Regions from separate parts of the Homo sapiens genome. Here region 2 is linked to region 1. The links come from fine-mapping of genetic effects on gene expression. Tissue or cell type: ileum. Region 1 holds a variant in brackets; the other region holds the start of a gene. All regions are shown on one strand. Distances are from middle to middle.

Region 1 (2,756 bases):
GTAAGTGCGATCTCTATAACATGTGCAGAAGAAAACAGAGGAGAAAGTCTTTTTCGTTTTGGGTTAGGAAAATAAGACACCAAAAGCGCGACCCATTAAAAAAATAAATAAATAAATAAATAAACTTGATTGAGTTTACCAAATTTCGGCTGGGTGTGGGGTGACTCATGCCTGTAATCCCAGCACTTTGGCAGGCTGAGGCAGGCAGATCACGAGGTCAAGAGATAGAGACCAGCCTGGCCAACATGGTGAAACCCCGTCTCTACTAAAAATACAAAAATTAGCTGAGCGTGGTGGCACGTGCTTGTGCTACTCGGGAGGCTGAGGCAGGAGAATCGCTTGAACCCGGGAGGGGGAGGTTGCAGGGAGCCAAGATCGGACCACGGCACTCCAGCCTGGCGACAGAGCAAGGCTCCATCTCAAACAAACAAAACAAAACAAAACAAAAATTTCTTTTTTTTTTTTTTTTTGAGATGGAGTTTTGTTCACTCTTGTCGCCCAGGCTGGAGTACAGTGGCATGATCTCGGCTCCCTGCAACTTCCACCTCGTGGGTTCAAGCAATTCTCCTGCCTCAGCCTCCTGAGTAGCTGGGGTTACAGGCATGAGCCACCACACCCAGCTAATTTTTGTATTTTTAGTAGAGACGGGGTTTCACCATGTTGGCCAGGCTGGTCTCGAACTCCTGACCTCAGGTGATCAACCTGCCTCAGTCCCCAAAAGTGCTGGGATTACAGGCGTGAGCCACCATGTCTGGCCTAAATTTCTCTTTTCAAAGGGGAAATTTGTACTTTATTTTTAGCTGTCGAGGAGCAAGTAAAGAGCTCCTCTTGTATTAGCTGGTTCTCAGTGTTTCAGCTCAAAGTAATGGGTATGTTGGGCTGGTATATTCTGGTTGCCAGCAGTCATGTTTGGGGACGTGTATCCTGAGGTCTGACACTATAAAGCCTCCTCTACTTGTCTTTCGGTCCCTGCCAAAATGCAAAGGGTGATGTCTGACTCCCTTACTAGGGCTAGCTCTGAATAAGTGGCCTCTGCTCATTTTCATTTGGGACGAAAACATTTGGGATGGGGGACGTCTCATTTATTTCCACTTGTTCTATTTATTTATTTATTTTGAGACAGAGTCTCGCTCTGTTGCCCAGGCTGGAGTGGAGTGGGGTGATCTCAGCTCACTGCAACCTCCACCTCCCGGGTTCAAGCAATTCTCCTGCCTCACTCAGCCTCCCGAGCAGCTGGGATTACAGGCATGCGCCACC[A/G]TGCCTGGCCAATATTCTGTGTGTATTTTTGGTAGAGACGGGGTTTCACCATGTTGGCCAGGCTGGTCTCAAACTCCTGACCTCAGGTGATTTGCCCACCTCAGCCCTGCAAAGTGCTGGGATTACAGGCATGAGCCACACACTTGGCTTTTTTTTTTTTTTTTTTTTTTTTTTTTTTTTTTTTTTTTTTTTGACACAGGGTCTGGCTCTGTCACCCAGGCTGGAGTACAGTGGCACAATCTTGCTCACTGCAACCTCTGCCTCCCAAGCTCTAGTGATACTCCCACCTCAGCCTCCCAAATAGCTGGGACCACAGGCGTGCACCACCACGCCCATCTAATTTTTGTATATTTTATACAGAGGAGGTTTTGTCGTGTTGCCCATGCTAGTCTCGAGCTCCTGGACTTAAGCAATCTGCCCACCTCGGCCTCTCAAATTGCTGGGATTACAGGCATGAGCCACTGTGCCTGGCCAATTTTCACCTGTTCTAAAGCAGCTGCTTAGAGGGCATGAGCTTGCAAAGACACAGCCCCTGAGCAGACTTCTCTATATGCACATAAGAAACAGCTAATGCACTGCCATCCCAATCCACAGCCAGACCTCGTATAATGGATAATCACCCTTCTCCCTGTGCCAGGATGTGGCCTCAGGGTAAAAATAATGAGTACAGCTGTGACATTTATTGAGTCCTTGACATGAGCCAGGCCTTGCTCTCCGTGCTTTGCAGATCACAGCTTCTACAATCTTCACAGCAATCGTGGCTCTTTCGCAACTGCAACTCCGTATCTTGGGGCATTTTGCCAATTTAGCCATTAGTCTATGAACAAAGCCACATTCTGATCAGGCTGAAGAATCAGGAAGGGAGAATGTGGCGGTGGGCTTTGTTCTGTATGTCACACAGCAATCTCGCTCTTTTACGGACATCACCTCACGTGGCTATGGCTCTTCTACTTCCCTACAGGGGACAAGGTGGGATAGTAGATCAAGGTGTTCTGCTCTCCCCGATCCAAGCCAAGGAGGAGCCAGGGTCTCAGGCTTGGATTCTCCCACGTTCACCCTGAGCATCTCACAACAGTAATCCCATAAAGCCACCGCTGCATGCTGTCCACAGGCTGTTCTTGATTTCGCCATTTTATAACACTAGCTCTTCTACGTTCCTTACTCTTCGAATGACCCCACACACTCACCATGCCTGGATGGTGTTGTTTAAGCAATCCAGGTTCATTTATGTTGCTTGTGAGGGGTTTCAGGACGTGCCGCCCCAAAACATGGCCCCTTGGCATTGGAGAAAACAGCAGAAGCGGGATGGTCTCTCTGACCTTCCTCTCATCTTTCTCTCCTGAAGCAGGTCAAACCACCCTCATTTGAAAGGTGCCTTAATACCCAGAGGAAAGAAACATCCTTAATTTCTTTTTAAAAAATTTTTAAATTGTTTTGTTTCCATAGGTTTTTGGGAAACAGGTGGTATTTGGTTACATGAGTCAGTTCTTTAGTGACAA
Region 2 (2,623 bases), 69 kb before region 1:
GGCTCACTGCAAGCTCCGTCTCCCGGGTTCAAGCGATTCTCCTATCTCAGCCTCCCAAGTAGCTGGGATTACAGGTGCACGCCACCACATCCAGCTAATTTTTGTATTTTTAGTACAGACGGGGTTTTGCCATGTTGGCCAGGCTAGTCTCAAACACCTGACCTCAGGTGATCAGCCCACCTCAGCCTCCCAAAGCGCTGGGATTACAGGCGTGAGCCACCGTGCCCAGCCCGTCTTTTCTATGTTTTTAAACCAAGCATTGCTTGAAAATAATCCTTTTTTTACTTTTTTTTTTGCTTATTTTTTTTCTTTTTATCTTATGTTTATTATTATTATTACTATAATTTTTGAGACAGAGTCTCTCTCCGTTGCTGAGGCTGGAGTACAATGCTGCGATCTTGCCTCACTGTAACCTCCGACTCCGGGGTTCAAGCAATTTTCTTGCCTCAGCCTCCCGAGTAGCTGGGATTACAGGCATGTGACACCATGCCTGGCTAATTTTTCTATTTTTAGCAGAGACAGGGTTTCACCATGTTGGCCAGGCTAGTCTCGAGCTCTTGGGTTCAAGTGATCGGCCCACCTCGTCCTCCCAAAGTGCTGGAATTACAGGCATGAGCCACTGCGCCTGGCCTTTTTACTTCTTTTGTTTGTTTGTTTATTTACTTTAAGAAATGTTTTCTTTTTTATTTTTATCTTATCTTTATTATTTCTTATTTACTTCATTTACCACTCAACAAATAACTTCTTTAAAACATTTTTTTTTGAGGCAGGGTCTTGCTCTGTCACTCAGGCTGGAGTGAAACTGCAGCTTCAACCTCCCAGGCTCAAACAATCTTTCCACCTCAGCCTCCTGAGTAGCTGGCAGTAGAGACACATGCCACCATGCCTGGCTAATTGTTTTATTATTTATAGAGACAGGGTCTTGCTATGATGCCCGGGCTGGTCTCGAAGTCCTGGGCTCAAGCGATCTTCCTGCCTCAACCTCCCCAAGTGCTAGGATTATGGGCATAAGCCACACTGCCCAGCCTAATATTTTTTATTTTTGAAGAGACAGCATCTCACTTTGCTGCCCAGGCTGCTCTGAAACTCCTGGCCTCAAGCAATCTTCCTGCCTCGTCCTCCCAAAGCGCTGGGATTACAGGCATGAGCCACCATGCCAGGTTGGATATGATCATATTATAGCCAGCACCCTGTGTAACAGCACAGGCAATCACTTAAAAACCTAAGGACACTGGCAGAATACGGTGACTCACATCTGTAATCCCAGCACTTCGGGAGGCCAAGGAGGGCAGATCACTGGAGCTCAGGACTTTGAGACCAGCCTAGGCCACATGGCAAAACCCCGTCTCTACAAAAAATAAAACAAAATAAAAACCTAAGGAAACTGACCACTGGTTTGGTAGACGTGGGCGTGGCTTTGAGATTCCCCCATGCTGCGATGTGGGGGGAGTCTGCTCTGTCTGTCCTAACTCTCTCTGATCTTCTGACTTGGGAAAAACAAACTCGAAGTTAATCATTCCCAGCTCAAAGCCTTGTGCAAGTGCTCTCTGCCTTCACGCTTGCTTCCTTTGGGAGAGAACCTTCCTCTTCTTGATCGGGGATTCAGGAAGGAGCCCAGGAGCAGAGGTGAGTCCTGTGAATGTTCATTTGTGCTGGATTTGGGCTCCGTGACCAGGCATGAATAGCGTGGTGAACAAAGAGCTCCCCGTTCCCTTTTCTGTCTCTGAATAATTGCCCAGTTTGTTTTGATAAAGCAGAAACGTACCCGTGACTTACAGGCCTAGGAATGCAGCTCTTTCCTGGAGAAGGGGGATCTGTTTTCTAATCTGCAGGAGAGGCCTTGGGCAGGCCCCATGCTCTGGGTCACCTCAATGTCACAGTTTCCAAAATTAAACTCATTCAAGGCTGTTATCACCATCTCTTTATTTATTTAACGTTTTTCTCCAAGAAAAAATATTCATATTTTTACTTATAAATACATAACATTGCGGGAGAAAGAAAAATTAGGTCGGGCACGGTGGCTCACGTCTGTAATCCCAGCACTTTGGGAGGTCGAGGCGGGTGGATTGCTTGAGCCCAGGAGTTTGAGACCAGCCTGAGCAAAAGAGGAAACCCCACCTCTACTTAAAAAAAAAAAAATCAATAGCCAGGCATAGTGGCATGTGCCTGTAGTTTCAGCTACTTGGGAGGCTGAGGTAGGAGGATCGCTTGAGCCCAAGAATTTGAGGCTGCAGTGAACTATGGTCGCACCATTGCTCTCCAGCCTGGGTGAAACAGCCAGACCCTATCTCAAAAAAAAAAAAAAAAAAAAAAAAAGGAAAAGAAAAGAAAAATTAGAAAAAGAGCACTTTTCCTAAATCTCCACACCCAGAGATAAACCACTGCTGGGCAGGATTGCTGCAAAAACCATCTTCCCCTAGTTTGTGGTGGTTTGGGGTTTTCTCATTACATTTGTACAGTATTTTGCTTTTATTCCGTTTTCTGACCATTGGCAGCATGTCATTGTAGGTCAGAAAGCAATGCTGAGGGTATTAAAATGCTCATTTTGGTTTTCTCTCCATGTACAATTTTAAATCAATCTCTTTCCCGGTGAAGATGCTATTAGGTTGGTGAAACGTAATTG

What was found. PIP is the estimated chance that this variant, and not a neighbour inherited with it, causes the effect.
Region 2: ARSL starts here. The variant in region 1 is fine-mapped to the expression of ARSL in ileum (GTEx, PIP 0.94).

Annotation. Positions count from the first base shown.
Region 1 is chrX:2,894,328-2,897,083 of GRCh38, reverse strand. No RefSeq gene overlaps it. Among named protein-coding and RNA genes, the nearest start is that of ARSD-AS1, 9.2 kb to the left of the region's middle. RefSeq lists an enhancer at 1-22. The variant A/G (reference allele first, on the strand shown) is at 1,258.
Region 2 is chrX:2,963,227-2,965,849 of GRCh38, reverse strand. ARSL (arylsulfatase L) reads left to right here and starts at 1,509. Exons shown (of 11, transcript NM_000047.3): 1 at 1,509-1,626. RefSeq lists an enhancer at 1,201-2,024.